Regions from separate parts of the Homo sapiens genome. Here region 2 is linked to region 1. Evidence: fine-mapped expression QTL. Tissue or cell type: whole blood. Region 1 holds a variant in brackets; the other region holds the start of a gene. All regions are shown on one strand. Distances are from middle to middle. Region 1 overlaps C1GALT1 (core 1 synthase, glycoprotein-N-acetylgalactosamine 3-beta-galactosyltransferase 1). Region 2 holds the start of LINC03016 (long intergenic non-protein coding RNA 3016).

The links. PIP is the estimated chance that this variant, and not a neighbour inherited with it, causes the effect.
Region 2: it holds the start of LINC03016, and the variant in region 1 is fine-mapped to the expression of LINC03016 in whole blood (INTERVAL, PIP 0.97). The same link has a PIP of 0.9 or more in neutrophils.

The regions. Positions count from the first base shown.
Region 1 is chr7:7,184,404-7,194,335 of GRCh38, reverse strand. All of the region lies in intron 1 of C1GALT1 (core 1 synthase, glycoprotein-N-acetylgalactosamine 3-beta-galactosyltransferase 1), which reads right to left. Among named protein-coding and RNA genes, the nearest start is that of C1GALT1, 6.8 kb to the right of the region's middle. The variant A/G (reference allele first, on the strand shown) is at 4,141.
Region 2 is chr7:7,249,671-7,259,602 of GRCh38, reverse strand. It overlaps LINC03016 (long intergenic non-protein coding RNA 3016), which reads right to left and starts at 4,449. Exons shown (of 4, transcript NR_108073.1): 1 at 4,425-4,449; 2 at 7-51.

The DNA of each region.
Region 1 (9,932 bases):
AAGGTAATAAAAGCCATCTATGACAAACCTACAGCTAACATTATACTGAATGGAGAAAGGTTGAAAGCATTTCCCCTGAGATCTGGAACAAGACAGGGATGCCCAGTCTCACTACTTCTATTCAACATAGTACTGGAAGTCCTAGCCAGAGGGATCAGACAAGACAAGGAAATAAAGGGCATCAAATCAGTAAAGAGGAAGTCGAACTGTTGCTGTTTGCTGATGATATGATCATACACCAAGAAAACCCTAAAGATTCATCCAAAAAGCTCCTAGAACTGGCAAATGAATTCAGTAAAGTTTCAGGACACAAAATTAATGTACACAAATCGGTGGCATTGCTATACACTAACAGCAACCAAGCTGCAAATCAAATCAAGAACTCAAACTCTTTTACTATGTCTGCAAAAAAAAAATAAAATACTTAGGAATATACCTAAGGAAGTGAAAGACATCTACAAGAAAAACTACAAAACACTGCTGAAAGAAATTGAAAATGACACAAACAAATGGAAACACATTCCATGCTCATGGATGGGTAGAATCAATATTGTGAAAATGATCATACTGCCAAAAGCAATCTACGGATTCAATGTAATTCCTATCAAAATGTCACCATCATTCTTTGCAGAGCTAGGGAGAACAATCCTAAAATTCATATGAAACTGAAAAGGAACACACATAGCCAAATCAAGACTCAGCAAAAACAAAAACAACCCCCCAAAACCCACAAATCTGGATGTATCACATTACCCGACTTCAAACTAAACTAAAAGGCTATAGTTACCGAAACAGCATGGTACTGGTATAAAAATAGGCACATAGACCAATGAAACAGAATACAGAACCCAGAAATAAAGCCAAATACTTAACAGCCAACTGATCTTTGACAAAGCAAACACAAACGTAAAGTGGGGAAAGGACACCCTATTCAACAGATGGTACTGGGGTAACTGGCAAGCCACATGTAGAAGAATGAAACTGGATCCTCATCTCTCACCTTACACAAAAATGAACTCAAGATTAGATCAAAGACTTAAATCTTTTAAGACCTGAAACCATAAAAGTCCCAGAAGATATCATCAGAAAAACCCTTCTAGACATTGGCTTAGGCAAAGACTTCCTGACCATGAACCCAAAAACAAATTCAACAAAAACAAAGACAAATAGATGGGACTTAATTAAACTAAAAAGATTCTGCACAGCAAAGGAAATAATCAGTAAACAGACAACCCACAGAGTGGAGAAAATCTTGGTAAACTATGCATCTGACAAAGGTCTAATATCCAGAATCTACAAAAAAACCAAACAAATCAGCAAGAAAAAAAACAAACAATCCCATCAAAAAGTGGGCTAAGGACATGAATAGACAATTCCCAAAAGAAGATATACAAGTGTTCAACAAACATATGAAAACATGTTCAACACAACTAATTATCAGGGAAATGCAAATCAAAACCACAATGCAATACCACCTTACTCCTGCAAGAATGGCCATAATCAAAAAATCAAAAAATAATAGATGTTGGCATCAATGTGGTAAAAAGGGAAAACTTTTACACTGCTGCTGGGAATGTAAACTAGTATAACCACTATGGAAAATGGTGTGGAGATTCCTTAAGGAACCAAAAGTAGATCTAACATTTGACCCAGCAATCCCACTACTGGGTATCTACCCAGAGAAAAAGAAGTCATTATACGAAAAACACACTTGAACACACATTTATAGCAACACAATTTGTAACTGCAAAAATATGGAATCAACCCAAATGCCCATCAATCAACAAGTGGATAAAGAAAATGTGGTATGTATAATATACACACACACACACCACGGAATACTACTCAGCCATAAAAAATAATGAAATAATGGCATTCACAGCAACCTGGATGGAGGTGGAGACCATTATTCTAAGTAAAGTAACTCAGGAATGGAAAACCAAACATTGTAAGTTGTCACTCATAAATGGGAACTAAGCTATGAGGATGCAAAGGCATAGAATGATACAATGGACTTTGGGAACTTGAAGTAAAGGGTGGGAGGGGGTGAGGGATAAATGACTACACATTGGGTACTGTGTACACTGCTTGGGTGAGGGGTGCACCCAAATCTCAAAAATCATTACCAAAAAACATATCCATGTAACCCAACACCACCTGTTCCCCAAAAGCCTATTGAAATAAAAAAAAAAGAAGAAAAAGTAACTCAAAATGGATCAAAGACCTAAATATAAGACCTAAAACTATAAAATTCTTAGAACATTGAACAAAAGAGCTTCATGACATTATATTTGGCAATGATTTCTTGGATGTGACAACAAAGGCAGAGTCACTGAAAGAAAATATTGGCAAATTAGATTTGATGAAAAATTTTTAAATTTGTGCACCAGAAGACCCTATCAACAGTAAAAGGCAAGCCACAGAATGGGTGAAAATACAGGCAAATCGTATTATCTGATAAGAGATTAGTATCCAAAATATATAGAAAATTCCTAAAACTCAAACAAAAAAAATCAACCTGATTCAACAATGTGCAAAAGACTCAAATACACATTTCTCCTAAGATACACAAATGGCCAATAAACAGATGAAAAGATACTCAACATCTCTAATCATTAGCAAAACAAATCAAGACTACAATGAGATGCTACCTTATACCCATAACAATGGTTACCATCAAAATTCAGAAAATTGTTAAGTGTTGAAGAGAATGTGGAGAAACTGGAACCCTTGTATACTATTGGTATGAAAGTAAAATGTTATTTCTGCTATGGAAAACAGTATGAAAATTCCTCAAAAAATTAAAAATAGAATTACCATATGATCCAGCAATTCCACTTCTGGATATATACCCAATGAGAGCAGGGTTTCAAGAAAGTATTTGTACACTCATGGTCATTGCAGCAGTATTCACAAGAGCTAAAATGTGAAGCAAACCACGTGTTCACTGAGGATGAATGAACAAGCAAAATGTATTTACATACAATGGAATAGTATTCAGCCTTGAAAAGTAAGGAAATTCTGATATATGCTACAAAATGAATGAATCTTGAGGACATTTTGCTAAATGAAATAAGCCAATCACAAAAGGACAAATAATGCACAATTCCACCTACATGAAGTACTTTAAAGTAGTGAAAAATCAGAGACAGAGTAGGCTTTTGGTTTCCAGGGCCTGTGGAAAGGTGAGAATGGAGAGCTATCGTTTAAACGGATATAGAGCTTCAGTTTTACAAAATAAAGAGTTCTGGAGATAAACAGCGGTGATGGTTGCACAACAATATAAATGTAGTTAATACCACTGATCTATAAACTTAAAAATGATTATGATGGTAAACTTTGTATGTATTTTACCAAAATTTTAAAAAGTTTGGAAAAAAAAAGGTATCAATGATAATGATGTTGATTTCCTCCGAATTAACCTGTATGTAAAGTAATCCCAGCTAAAACACAGGAAGATTTTAAAAAATTATATAACTTGGCAAAAAGTATTCTAAAACTTTGGACCAATAAACATGTGGGTGTAACTGGGAAATTCTGGAAAGGGGCATTGTGGGAAGGGGTGTACTAATCTGATCTGATCAATTTTAAGTTATAAAAAAGATTTTAAAAAATTAATGTGGCAAAAATTATTCTAAATGTTATCTGGAAAAATAGGTGAGTATCACTGGAAAACTCTTGAAAGGGGAACTGGGGAAGGGGAAGAGACAAAGTTTACTACATATAAAAATATATTACCTTAAAAAAGGTAATGAAAACAATTTGGTATTTATGCTGAACAAACTCTCAGTCTGTTTAAAAAAATGCATTTGTTAATACTAAAGACAATGTGCTGAGAAACTGTTCTCTACATCAGACTGTCAGAAACTATGTTATTTGAAATTTTATAAAGTGAGAATGGAACATCCCACTCTCGCACTGATGGTAGATCATTATGAAACAGAAGCAACCTCACTTTGCAACTCAGAGCTTCAGATAAGGGGTTTCCAGACACAACATTCCACATGTATCGCGATTTTGTAGTCTCCAGGGAATCAGAATCCTGAGTCAGCTTCTCAGCCCAGGCCTGATGTTTATTAACCCTTGACACACAGTCTTGCCGTGCTTTAAGCTTATCAAATATTGTTGCGTTTAAACTTT[A/G]TCCAAACTCCACCATTCTCCAAAATCCTATAATAACCCTGGTTCCTTCTTTAGAAATGCTGACATTTCCTCTGCTGTGCAAGTCTCCTTCACTGCAGCAAGCTAATTAACCTTTGTCAGCCTACAGATGTGTCCCTGGTGGTCTCTACCAGATGAATCTTATAAAGGGACTTCATCAGGTTGAAATAAAGACTCTATGGAAAACAAAAATTCATGTGGAAATTTAATACATAATAAACAGCATTTCAAATCAAGAAAAAGGTGGCTTATTGAAGAAATGGTATTGAATTAATTAATCTTTTGGGGAAAAAAAAACAAAACCAGCTGGATCCTTACTTTCTAGTAACAATTTCAAATGTTTCTAAGATTTCAGTATTTTAGAAAATGGAATTAAAACAAAACTGGAAGAAAATATATTTTTGCATTTTGATATTACGAATTGAGATCTCTCCCACACTCAGAAGCTGTGACTATTAAAACACTATGAGTTTATTCATTGGATAAACTTCTGGCAATGAAGTCGCTGGTTAAAGGGCATATTTCTTTATGAAATATATTTTTTTAATGTACAGCAAAAAGAACCAAAAAGTATCATAAATAATAAAAAAGATAGTTAACCAAATACAAAAACAGATAAAGAAAATAAAAGATTCACAGTAAAAAATGGTCAACGATGTTCAAATTTCACTCACAAAGGTAAATCAAATGAAGAGATATTATTTTTAACCTAACATATTGGCAAAACTTTTAAAGTTTATTAACAGCTGTTATTGACACAGATACAAGAAAACTGGTAGTCCTGTATTCTTTCTCATAATACATACTTTTACTGTCTTTTGGAAGGGCATTTCACAACATCTTTTTAAATTTTTAACTAATTATGCCTTGATATATCACTTCATGATCAGAAACTTATTTTACAGATATAATCATAGAAGTCAGCCAAGATGCTCGACAGCCATAACCATAAGACGTCTGTCTGTTGATGAGGAACCAGTTTTTTAAAAAAAAGATAGAGCCATAGCATAGAATAGTAGTAGCTGTTAAAAACAATGATCTACATGTGCTGATAGGGAAAATCTTTGTGCTTTTGACAAAGGTTACTTTTTATTGTTAATAAGGTATACTGGGTATTTTTTTAAACATCAGAAAATGTAAAGAAAACAAAAGGAACAAACCTAAACAAATGAAAGAAAATCATAGACAGAAAAGAGTAAATTTTCTTTACCATCTCTACCACTATCTCTCCCCAAAAGTAACTGCTTTCGTATCGTTGGGTAATGCCTATATCATCACATATGTATGTTCAGCTTTTAATTTACATCAGAGATCATGCTTATCGGTTAGTCTGCACTTTAATTTACCCCTTCACTTATTTTATCCATAACACAATGTCATTCATTTTAACAACTGTATAAGATAAAAGGTTTATTTTTTAAGACAATGTACCGAAATATTTTCTAGTATGATTTCACTTGGCTTTTTAAATGTTTCTGTATATATTTTAAAATCTGTTAAGATATATATACATATGATATTTAACAAGAGCTATCTCTGGGAACTAGCACTGGGTGGCATGAGCAAGGAAGGACAAATTTTTTTTTATTTTATAACCTTTTGATGTTTTAATTTTGCATCGGGTACACACATTACTTTTCTGATAAAAATTAAATAAAGGGAGGCAATTTTTATCTACAGAGTGAAATAATATGATAAAAATTAAAGTCCACTAATTTCTCCACACTTGTCAAACAAAATGATCTCTTGATCCTTTCAGACTTCTCCAAGTTTCAGATTCACATACACAAATGCCTGCTAAATACTTCCACCTGGACCATAGGCATCTCTAATTCAACACCTCCAAAGTGACTCATTACTTTCCTCTGCTCATTTTACCTTAATTACTGGTAATTACCTAAATTATTCACCAATGGGTTCCTATTTCACTCAGAGCCACAGGATTATCTAAACTACAAAGTACACAGATATTCTTAATGCTTCCCTTATCTTCACCCCAAATCCAATTACCAAGTCTTGCCAACATTACTTCCTAAATATTATTCTAATCCATTGTCTCCTCTCCATTTCTAGTATTTATCCTATTTCAGACTCTCCTCTCTCCCCACAGGCTATTACAATATCTAACCTCTCTGACTCAAGTGCTATCCCTCTTTAACTCATACCCCGTCACCAGAATGAGCTCTCTAAAATGAAAAGCTGACCATGTCACCCCATGAATCCTTTCACGGAACTCCACTGCCTACAAGACAAAAACTAAACATTTTTTATTAACATGATATATAAATAAAGGCTATGACCTAGAGCCTGTCCAGGTTTCCAGCCTCGTCTTTTGCTATTCTGTGCCTTATAATTTATGTCTGCTTCAGCAATCCTGAACTGTCTACAGTTACTGAAAGGTTCCCAATATGGTCAGCTCCTCTTCCTACTGTCTTCTCTGACTACAACACTTGCTTCCCACCAACCTCTGTAAATCCCATTAAACTAAGGTTTCTTAACCTTGGCGCTACTGACATTAAGAGCTGGATAACTCTCTGTTGTGGAAGCCGTCCGGTCCTCTGTAGGATATTTAGCCAGCATCCCTGGCCTTTACTCACTAGATGCCAGTAGTATTCCCCCTAGTTGTGACAAACAAAAATGTCTGTAGACATTGCTAAATGTTTCCAGGTAACAACCTCTCCACTAATTTGTTAAAACTGTTTCTCACATTTACATAAAAGATCTCCCCTGTCTCTACTAAAAATACAAAAAAAAAAAGAAATTAGCTGGGCATGGTGGCAGGTGCCTGTAGTCCCAGCTACTGGGGAGGCTGAGGCAGGAGAATGGCGTGAACCCAGGAGGCAGAGCTTGCAGTGAGCTGAGATCGCGCCACTGCACTCCAGCCTGGGCGACAGAGTGAGACTCCGTCTCAAAAAAAAAAAAATCTCAGGAAGAATAGAGATAAGACTACTTTTAACACTAATTGCCTTTGAGGAGGACAACTGGGTAACTGGAGTGGGATGAAAAAAACTTACTTTTCAAACCATTTACTGTGCGTTTTTAGTCTTGTACCTCTTCTGACTTCTCCACTGCTATCACCCTGGTCTGAGCAACCTCTCTGTCTTTTAACTACTCCAACAACATTCTAACCAACTTTCCCCTTCCTTTAGCCTTTGCTTCTTTGGCCCATTTTTACCAATAGCCACAATGATCCTTTTAAAACTGAAATCAGATCACATCACTCATTTGCTCAAAACCCTCCCGTCTTCCTAATCTTAGAGAGCCAAAACCTTACAAGGATCTACCCACAATCTGCATCCTACTCCACCCCTTTCTTTCTGATCTCTTCTCCCCAGTATTTGGTGTTTTTGTAGGTCAAAAATGAACAAACAGCAGCAATTTCATAGATTGAACCTAATACTAACTGCTTGTCATTCCTCAAACGTGCCAGGGTCTTCACACTTAACTGTTCTCTGCTAAGAACACGCACCCAGGTGCTCATATGGCTCACTCTCCAACTCCTTCAGGTCTTTACTTTTCAGGAGTCTTCACTGGCCACCCTATGCTTACCCACAGCACCTATTAATATCAAATATTATTTTACTTATTCATCTTGTTTACTGTCTCTTTTCCATCTTGATCAGTGGTTCTGAAACCTGAGTCTCCATCAGAATCATTTGGAAGGCTAGTTAAATAAAGAGTTCTGGGATGGAGCCTGAAAATTTCAATTTCTAACAACTTCCCAGGTGATGATGATGCTGCAGATCCAGGGACCACATTTTTAGAACCCGTGTTTCAGAATGTAAGCTCCATGAGGACAGAGATTTTTGCCTATCCACTGTTTTATCTCCAGGACCTGGCACATAGTAAGCACTTGCTGTGGTCTGAATGTTTGTCTCCTCCAAAACTCATGTTGAACCTTAATCACCACTGTGGCAGTATTGAGAGCTGGAGTCTTTAAATGGTGACTGGGTACTAAGGGTTCAGCCCTCATGAATGGGTTATCATGGGAAAGGAACTGGTAGCTTTACAAGAAAGAAAGAAAGAAAGAAAGAGTTCTGGGCTAGCATGCTCGGCCCCCTCACCATGTGGTGCCCTGTGCTATCCTCAGGACTCTGCAGAGTCCCTACCAGCAAATGCCCTCACCAGATGTGGCCCCCTGAACCAGGACTTTTCAGCCTTCCTAACTGTAAGGAATAAATTTCTTTTCTTTATAGATTATCCAGTTTCAGATATTCTGCTAGAGGCAACAGAAAACAGATTAAGACATCACTGATATATGTAAATAAATGTAAGTGTCCCATCCTGTTTCCACTATAGCCTCTGATTCAGTCTATAATGCTAAACATTTACTGAACGATGTAAAAGATAAACCGTGCAACTGTTACAGGTTAAACTGTGTCCCCACAAAAGATAGGTTGAAGTCCTAATTCCAGTACCTCTGCACGTGACCTTATTTCAAAATAGGGTCTTTGCAGATGTAATCAAGTTAAGATGAGGTGATTAGGGTGGATCTTAATCCAATACGACTAGTATCCTTGCAAGAAGTGGAGCACACCATCTGAAGACAGAGCCACACAGGGATTATGTTGTGATAACAGAGTCACAGACTGGAGTGACATAGCTGCAAGCCAAAAAATGCTAAGGATTGGCAGTAACACAACAAGCTAAGAGGCATGGAACAGATTCTCCCCTCGAACCTTGAGAGAGCATGGCCATACCTACATCTTGATTTCAGACATCTTGCCTCCAGAACTGAGACAATAAATCTGTTGTTTTAAATCACCCAGTTTGTCGTATTTTGTTACCGCAGCCCTAGAAAATACAATGACCAAGAATGCAAATAACTATGCCAAGCTGTATTTAATTTCAAATTCTGCCTATTATCCAACATCTAGCCGTTTAAATGTGCTTTAATATACAGGTTTCCCATTCCAGAATCTCCCTAATATTGCCTCTCGTTGCCCCCAACACGCCCCTTCAATGTGCAAGGCAGCACATACTACAGGTGCTAGATAATTTATTTAGACTTTCCTTTCAGTTTCCCCCACCTTCTTATGTGCTTCCCTAAATCACAAACACCAGTTTCTTTATATATTTTTTTTCTCCCTCTTCCTATTCTCACATATTACAGATTTTGGCATATATATTCCCCTTGGACATTTGAATTAGCTGCAAAATAATTTAAGTACACATTGGAGTTCCTCTCTAACCAGATTTTAAGATAAAAGGCTAACTTCTCATTTTATGGAACAAGTCTCCTTCCCGCTCCCCACCTTTCTTCTTTTAAAAGAATGACTTAATCCCACTGAATTTGAAGTAAAAAGATTTTTGTCATACCTTTCTTTCAGCCTTGCTATAGTTTGTACATCAGCGTCTTTAATCAAATCTTAAGAAATCTTCTAAAAGAAAAGATGGTTGTATTGGGAAGCTTAAACTTTTAAGCCTATCTGAATTTAATTTCAGCATCAAGCTTTCCATTTTCTACTTAAGGTTTATTTATAGCTGCACTGTCACAAAAATTCCAATCAATGATTTTACCACACAAAGACTCTAAATTACCATGGCTTATAATGTTAAACTGCATAATGCAATTTTAATTTTAGCACAAATCAATACACAAATAGTAGCATGTGCCTAGTGACATACTTTTTCATATTTCTATTAGGTAAACAAGAACTCATTATGTGTACCCTGAAATAAATTTGTGATACAATTTTAAGAATAACTGGATATTGAATTTACTCAACGTAGTCTAGTCTTAAAAAGCATAATTATGAAAAACTTTAAATAGG
Region 2 (9,932 bases), 65 kb before region 1:
GCTGACCTTGTGTATATAGAATAGCTTGGGTTGGATCTTGAGAGAAATTACCTGTTGGAGAGGGGAAAGAGAAAGTTACCATCAACACTCCTGATTTTATTTTATTTATTTTTTTTTTTGAGACGGAGTCTCGCTCTGTCGCCCAGGTTGGAGCACAGTCGCGCGATCTCGGCTCACTGCAAGCTCCGCCTCCCAGGTTCGCAGCATTCTCCTCCTTCAGCCTCCTGAGTAGCTGGGACTACAGGCGCCCGCCACCGCGCCCGGCTAATTTTTTTTTTTTTTTTTTGTATTCTTAGTAGAGACGGGGTTTCACCGTGTTAGCCAGGATGGTCGTGATATCCTGACCTCGTGAGCCGCCCACCTCGGCCTCCCAAAGTGCTGGGATTACACGCGTGAGCCACCACGCCGGGCCAAACACTCCTGATTTTAATACATCATGCCATAGGATGAAGTTAATTTTTAGCTCCGTTGAGAGGAAACAACTACCATCCTGCCGCATAGTAGAGAGTCTGGAGAAAAACAGTGTCAGCTGAAACCTCTACTTTCTTTAATTTCATTAAAAAATTGATCTCATTGATGCCATCAACTGTGCTTCTGGGTAAAGTCGCTGGTTCACATTTTCAGTTTCAATTTCCCTTGCTTCTCTTGCTTCAGTTTCAGTAGCAACAGGAAGTTTGGGTAATTCTATATCATTTAAATGTGAAGAGGAAGAAAGAAAACCCTTTATAAACACATCCTGATGAGTGAGTGTCAGAAAATTCTATGCAGAGACGTGGAGTAATCAAAGAGCAAATTCAGAAAATATTCTCTAAGTTTAGGATTTGTAGACTACTGAATTATAAATTTATACTGATTAATACATAGCAAAGGTTACATTAATATATTAAATCATGAATTTATATTATCTTGAGGTGATTGACCCTATGAGGTCACTTATAAATTGATTTTATGAGCACATAACACTTTATCTCTTTCCACCCTCTAAGTCTGTATATTATTAAAATACAGAAGACTAGACTTGATGTGTTTCAAAACTTCAGGCGCAGGTTAAGTTCCACCACTCAGTTCTGCTTCACTTGTTCTCACTCTGAGTCACTCAACCTCTGAACACGTTTTTCATTTGGTCAACTTATTTGAGCATTTGTCCAAGTAGCCTGAGTGGGTCTAAGTATAAGACATGAAATAAAGAGCTTGACATGGCAGAGACTGTCAGACTTTCAGAGAGAAAAAACAGTTTACTTAAGAATCTCAGAAATAGCTGGTCATGTCTAAGTTAGGGTCCCTAAGAAAATACAGGTGATTTCACTTTGTATTTCCCCCATTCCTTTCCCCCTTCCATTTCCGAAATTTGGTATTTTGAAAAGGATGAAGATCGATTTGGAAGTAGCTTACTTTAAAAAGGAACATAGTAACAGGAAATTGTAAAGTAACATTCTGTTAGGTTTCAAGGCTGATTTGTGTTAACAAGCTGACCACAGCCCTAAGACATGCTTGAAACCCTTAGTGCAGGGAGACAAAATAGGAACAGGGCTGAGCCTGATGCGGCCTCATTTGGGTTTGGTTGTTGCTGCCCCACTTGTAAAAACAATACAGACTGCGAAATAGACAGTCGTCCCTCAGTATCCTTGGGGTACTGGTTCCAGGACCCCCTCTGATACCAAAACCCATGGATGTTTAAATCTCTTATATAAAATGGTATAGTATTTGCATATAACCTATGCTTATCCTCTTGCATACTTTAAATCATCTCTATAATACCTAATACGAATGCTATGGAAATAACAGTTATACTGTATTGTTTATATTTTTGTCATATTATTTTTTATTGAATATTTTTGATCCACGATTGGCTGAATTCATGGATGTGGAACCCACAGATATGAAGGGCCTGATTGTACTAACTGATACCAGATCATTAGGCAATTCTCTTACTGGGGCTGCAGATCCAAAATCCAGACCACGTTTCTCTGAGTAAAGGTGTAATTTCCTCTGAAAAGACTAAATGTTTTCACTGCCAGTTTCCCAGGGGAGAGGTTGGTTCAGCAGGAATTTTGGGAGGAGGGTGTCCAGAGTGTTAGGTGAGTGGAAACCTTCCTCATTTCTTTTAGTGCAGATGTCAATTTGGCTCCAATTCTAAAGAAGTGCTGATAACTGAAGGTTTCTAGTGGGGTAGCTGAACTACCTTTGGTGACCTGGAAACAGGTAGCAAAGAGGGCAGAGCAGTAGCCTGGTAAGGGTGGAGAGGATTCCACTGGAGCTTGGCCGCTCTCATAAAGTACTATCTGGACCCTTTCTTTCATTATTCTGGAACGGTCAGGAAAGTCTGGTCTCTACTGTGGGCAACAAAGAGGAAAATAAGTCTTTTCCCCAGGGTCAAACAAGATGACAGAAGTCACCAGCAGAAGATGGTAGTGCCCACTGAAGCAGCAAGTTAACTGGAGTCACTGTCCCTAGGAGGCAGCCCAGGAATGGGCAAGAGGGCAACCCATTTCTGGGTACACATTACACTGTACCCTGGGAACCGCTGAGGATCACGAGGGGCATATTTTAAGGGTGGCTATTTCTGCCAGTAATGCTGGAAAGCATTCATGGCATAATGCCATGATATGTAGCAGAATCCACCACAGTGTCTGTACGAAATGTTTAAGTAGGTAATTCATTCTGTCAGTTATTAAGTGTTATGAATCTGAAATCATTAAAACAATGTACTGCACAAGAAATAGGCAGATAAGCAGACCAGAATACAGTTTATACACAAACCGATAATGAAATATCATGGGGTAATGGTGATTTAAAATAAATGTTGAAAGAAAGGATCGTCAAATAAAGTGTATTACAACAAACGGGTAGCCATTTTCCTACCTCACTCCATATAAGAAAATAAATTCTGGAGGGATCAAAAATATAAACACAAAAAATGAAACTATGAAAGTAAGAGGAAAACATAAGCATATTATAAATAAACCTTGGTGTGAGCAAGACACACAATTCAATAGCCCTAAGAAAAGATTAATTGGTTTGTGTGGGGAAAAAACAAGTACGAAATAATCATAACAGTTCTAATACATATAAATAAACCAATATTCAGAGAGTTTATAAAAATTTTTAAAAACCCTAGTAATTCAATATTAAAAACTGGCGAAGATGAAATGCAAATTACCAATGTATAAAAAAAACTCAAACCTTAAGTACAAATCAACAATTATCAGATATTAATGCAGTGATAAAACTAGTAAGTTCAATAATCAAAAACTTTGGTAAAAGGGGCAGGAAAATATACTCGCAAATGTTGAGTAGTAGTATAAGGTAGTACAGTACAGTTTAAGAAGGCAATTTGGCAGTATCTATGAATATTTAAATGCATACATTCTTTATCTCAGCAATTACTTGCTAGGAACTTATCCTATGGCTGTACCCACACAATCATTTCAAGGATGTTCAGTGCAGCAATAATTATAATAAAAGTATCCAACTCAATTATCAATAGAGGAATGGCTTAAAAATTGTGGCACATCCATACAGAGATCTAGTTAACTATTAAAAAGAATTATCTCTAAGTTATTAAACAGTAAGCAGAAAAGGCAAGGAGCAGAATGATGTGTTTAGTTTGGAAATGAGTACAGTTCTGTTATTTTCTGTTTATGGCTGGACAAAGGGACTGCTGGGTGGGGCTGTAGCAGATTATAGCTTTTCATTTTATATTCATTCTCTTTTACCAAGCACATACATTACCTTTGTATAAAAACTTAAAAATATTTTTAACAGGAAAGACATTATCCTCAAACCATGCAGTAATGCCCAACTTGAATATATTTATTCAAGATCTAAGGAAGGAAATTTCAGGGGTACTGGAGTTATTGAAAAATAAACCTAAAAACATGCCAATGAAAGAAAATGGCTGTGGGTCTCAGAAAAAAATGGTACACTGACTGCACCTGGGAAAAAACTGGAACTCTCGAAGAATTGAAGTTAACTGGGCTTTGGCAAATTTGTGAATATATCGACTCTTTCACATGAAGTTGTACCTGAGCCTTATTCTTTAAATCCAGTTCAAATGCCACAATTTCTTTGAAACTTCTCAGATCCCTAAACACTTAATATACAGTCCTCTTATAGTTCTTTGTAAATACCTCTATCATAGTCCTGAGGAGGCTATTTGTTCACTGGCATGTCAGCCCCCAACCCAAATGTGAGATCCTTCAGGCAAGCCTTAACCACAGGTTTCGCCCTCCTTTCTCTTCTATAGCTGACAAACCATGAGCCTGGTGAAAGTTTGTTGAATGGGTGATTTAATGACTGGAGGAAAAAAAAGAGCTGTTGCTTTTTTTGGATTTTAGGATAGAAAACTTGTAACTTGACATGTAAATTAATTATTAACTAACTCGACACAGTTTTCTCCTTACCAGTGTTAGGCACGACCCTACCTTTGTTTTGTCATCAGAGATCACTTGTTGCTTCAGTAACCAAGAGCACTGAGCTACACCAAGTGACAGTGCTTTGGAATGTCTAATGGTCACTGTAGAGAAAAGGAACCTGAGCTCTCCTCCCTAATAGCAAATACACACAATCTTCTGCCCACACTTGAGGTTTTGTTCTTTTTCTGGACTGTATTCTCCAACGTAAATGCGAGGTTTTTTGCCTGATGGTGTATGATACGTGGAGTTCAAATCAAGATTTTCTCAAGCAGAAAACCTGTTTAGGAGTCCCTCCATATCTATGAGAAAAGCATTTTGTTTAGAGGTCTCCATAAAAATGAAACAGAAGAAAGTAGGGGGCATATGGAGAACTTTTCTTCATAGTGAAAGGATGCTCACCATTTACTTCCTTTTAATTGATATATAATGTACATATTTATGGGGGAGAGAGTAATATTTTGATACATACAATGTATAGTAATCGTATAGTAACCTTTTTAAACTTTTTTGTTGTGGAGATGGAGTCTTGTTGCCCAGGGTGGACTTGAACTCCTGAGCTTCAGCCTTCTGGGTAGCTAGGACAACAGGCATGCAGCACTACACATGGCTTTGTTATTTAAAAAAAAAAATCCTATTATGTCCCAGGCACAATTGGAAACAAGACAGATTTGATCTCTGATAACAGTGCCTGGCAACTATTAGGATCGTTCCTAGAATCTATTTGCAAATGGTGGGAAAAGGCAGGGACCAAATATGTGAGTTCTATCTAGCAGTACAATGGGTCAAAGAAAAACAGAAAGAATGAATAAGATCTAGTATTTGATAGCACAATAGGGTGACTATAGTCAATAATTTAATTGTGTATTTAAAAATAACTAAAAGAGTATAATTGGATTGTTTGTAACACAAAGGATAAATATTTGAGGGGATGGATACTCCATTTTCTATGATGTGATTATTACTTGTTGCATGGCTGTATCAAAGTGTCTCATGAACCCTATAAATACGTACACCTACTATGTACCCACAAAAAATTTTGTTAAAGTACATAGCTCAGGTTGTTCAGGGAAGATAAGAAATTGCATTTAGTACAAAGACCACTAACCTGGGAGTCAGGAAAATTGAGTTCTGTTGCCACTTCTGGCATTATTTGTGTCATTTTTCTAAACTTTAACATCTCTAGATCTGTTTCTGAATCTTTCAAACGAGGCGTTAGAACATCTTTAAGCTCTAGAAATCAGTAGTCCTATATTTTTATGTGGGAAAGGGCTCAGTGTCTTCTATTTCCATGAATAAGAGAATAAGACTTAAGCCAGAACAGATCTAAGAAAGATATGAAAATAATCTGACACAAGGATTTGAGAATAAATAGTAACTTCCGAGTACTCTTCACCCTTGGAGTAGAAGGAGAGAAGGATGCTAAGACGGGTCCACATGAGGCTGCTGGTCCTTTGTATGGGTCAACTATTTACCACTCTTGAAGATGGATACCTCCTTCATCTACCCTCATTATGAACTAGTTCAGCAGTCTTTATACCCTTGATTGAAGAAAGTAATTTCTTATGGCAAGATAAAAGAATCCAAATCAGCTTTGAGATCTTTCCAGCTCATGTGTGTACCTGCTTACCTCTACTGCTGCTTAAGAATGTCTGTGGACATTCTTCACCACTGGTTGTAAAAACCCTAGGGAGCCAGGGCCAACAGCTTTTTTTTCCCACTTTACTTCTCTAAACTGTGACAGTATAAACATGATTTTTTAAAAGTTCAAAAAGGAAAACAGTGAATTATTGAATTTCTTTCCAATCCTAGTACCCTTCCCCAAAGGTACTGCCAACAGTTTTTGTATATTCATACATTTATAAGTTAAATCATATTTTTCCTTATTTGACATCATATCTATGTTTGGTCTTAATTCTGTCATCTATTGTAAATTCTCCCTTTAGCTCTCTTATATGGCCTGTGTTATCTTTAATTTTGTGTTTTCATTTTAATAGTTATCAGGCTTACAGTTTTGGTGATTACCTTCATAACTATTCAGAATATTACATCCCTATTTCTTGATATATTATCAATTTTACAAAATTTCTATTCTGAAAAGTAAAACCAATTAGGGCATGTATATATTACCTCGTCTTTGATATTCTATTTTCTAACTTGTTAATCATCTTTTCTATATCAAGATTTATAACATTTCAATATGCTTCCATAGCCTTATTTAAATAATTCTATAGCTACATAGTTAAATAATTAACCACCACCAGTCCTGTTCTCAATGTTTGTCCATTTATCTCTTTAGATGGGCTTCATCATCTAGATTTTTCAAGAAGTGTCCACCCTCACTCTTTCAATTTACCCTTCCATTTGAAATCACTTGGCTTCTTCCTCCCCCAAGAATCTGGTAGAGTTTGCTTCACTCTGCTTTAGCACTGAATGTTGCTACAGAGAAGCCTAAGTCCAGTCCGTTCTTCCTCTCTCCATCTCCCCCTCCCAAAGAAATCACTCAATTTTGTTGCTGCTAAGATGACATTCCCCTCTCCCTGCCCCCAGGACAATTTGCAGATTTTGGCCACATCAAGAGCAACTGTATTTTTTTGAAATTATAATGTTAAAATTAGCATTTGTTACACGATCTCACTTTAATAAAACCATTTCTATCTATTTAGCTTCCTATCCAATTTATATTTATGCATTAATTGGAATTACTTTGGGGGGTGGTGGGGTTTGGGGTCCTTTAAAAATTTTCATCTTTGAAATGGTCATCTGCAATGAATGTTTAAGTTTTTTTTAAAATAATGGAGCTTATCACTTTTTCAATGGAAAGATGACTTATCTAGTAAAAGCTGGTAGTAAATACACAAGATACAATGATGCGTACTTTTTTGTACGTTTTGAAGAAAAACTAACACAAAAGAAAAATGTTAAATGTTTAAAAAGAGGAAACAATTTCTCAAACACCTCCTCTTGATTCTGACAACTTGGGTGGGTTAATGGGCTTATGTCATAGAAATGGCATTTTCCCCCCTCCATATCAGGACACTTCATAAACTTTAACAAGAAGAATAAGCCAGAAGTTTTCTTAGCAATATGAATTAAGAGTATAAAAGCCATTGAATGATGTGGATGGAAGTTTTTACATGGTTATGGCTGCATATGGAAATGAAATGATTTAAATTGGCCCCTTTCGAGAAGAGTCTCTTGCTTCACACACTCCATTCTTTCTTCTATGTAGCATCTGGTACTTTCAGTTCCCCTTTTGTGTAAAGTGCTGGAGGTTAACAAAATACAGTAGTTCCCCCTTAACCACGGGGGGATACATACCAAGATCCCCAGTAGAAGCCTGAAACAGTGGATAGTATAATCCATCCACCAGGATTGTAGTAAGAATTACATGGGATAATGCAATGTAAAACAATTAGCACACTGCCTGAGAGTATAACTCTACTGCACACAACTACTTTTTTGGGTACTTTGCTTCTAATAGAAGGTGAGTTCCTTGACAGCAACAAATATAATTTGCCACTTTATCCCTATTATCTAGCTCAATACTTTTAGTAGGCACTCAAATGTTGGTTAAATGATTTGGAGCTAAATTGTCTGGCGTTTAGGTAAGGAATAGCAATTTTTTAAAAAGGGAATACATGCTAGGTCAGGCTGTGGAAGGTCACATAATCTGAGGTTATATTCATTTTATTCAACAGGTCATAGTGACCATTTTTAAGATGTGAGAGAGGACTGCCTTAATACTGAACACTGAAATCTTTTATCTATAAAGATTAAGTTTTTCTCCCCACTGGTTTTCAGGTATTTAAGCACCCATATTTTCACTGAGTAGGTTCTAGAAGGAAACATTTCCTTAAGAAAGAGGAAACTGCAGGATAATGTGGGCATCGATTCTTTGAGTGCTATCTCTTCTTTCTTTCAGCAACTTCTAGGCTGGTGAGAGGGAACTGAGGTTCACAAAAGATACACAATTTTTTAAAAAGTCTTAAACACATCCATTTTGATAGAAAATAGAGGCAGCCGGGCATGGTGGCTCATGCATATAATCCCAACACTCTGGGAGGCCAAACTGTTTAAAGACCAGCCTGGGCAACACAATATGACCCTGTCCCTACTTAAAAAAAAAAAAAAAGAATGGGGGCAATAAAAAGTCTTAAGAAACTAAAGACTTGCTGCTGCCAATCAGAAGAAAAAGAAAGGGTAAAAGAAAAAAACATGGAATGAGAGATGAGTAGGAGAAGGTTCCAAGAGCTATAAATTCAAAGGCCAAAAAAGAGAGAAATTCCGTCAGGCAAGTAGGTTTGTAAAAATTACTTTAAAAATCAGGAATTATATCTGTGGCCAATTATTCTAAACACATAGTTACCTTCACTTCATCAAATAAACCACTTATTATATAAACCTAATCAACATGAAAATGCAGTGGTTTTAATACTTCAATTACATTAAAAATCCAGTTATTAAAATATAATCATAACCATCCTTTTTCTTTGTCTCTGACATATACATACCCACACTCACCTACCCACACCCCACCAAAAAGTATAAAAACAAGGAAGAGAGTCATGTGTAGAACTAAAGGAAAAGTTGCATATTACTTCTCTTCCAAACCTATGTTCTGGATTTTATCACCACCTTTCCACAATCTAACAATTAGACAAGAAAATTAATAAGAATGAACTGTTAGAGGTATAGAAGGGGAGACAATGCAGTTTAGGTAGTTCTATGAAAAAAAATTGAAGCTTATGAAAGTCAAAAACTGATTAGTTGTAAAAATGAAGACACTGTACCCAAATTAGTTCTACGATAGCACATCATTCGGCAGTTCTAGAAATGAAGTACTGTTAATCTTTCACTAGGCATTCATTAGAAAAGCCAAAGAGCCTAAGTTCTAGGATTGAATCTCATTTTTTAAAATATGAGTATTTTGTTATTTCAAAGTAAGCTGTTGTATTAACCTGCACTATACAGGGGCAATATATAAGAAAGTATATAATGCCCTGGACAAATTTTCAGTCCTGGAGAAAAGCAATATTGATAATAATACAAGAAACACTAGCACATTTTGTAGAAGAAATGCAACACAGAGACAGTTTTAAGTTCTAGGCAGCAATACAAAATGCGTTAATTAGTAATAAACTCATGGCAAAACAAAGTTCACTTCTGTTTTACTAATACAGATGCATCTGGAGAATGCCAATGTTGCTGAACTCATTCAACTTTAGTAGTTAAATGTTAGTTCATTCTTAACCACTAAAAAAATTTCCCTTGAACAATCCATATTGTCAGCATTATTAGACTTTAAGACGACCACTATGTTGAGCTCTGTAGAGTACTTCCCTTTAACAAGGAGATAAATTCAGCAAGAATCTTCTTGTATGCTTTCCAGTACTATGAAGTCATACCTTTGGAAAACTTAAAATAGGTTTAATTGTATATATTTAGGTAAATATATCTACTTTCCAATGACTTAACAATTATCAGTACAGCTGGTTGGAAAATATTTAGCTGTCTGAA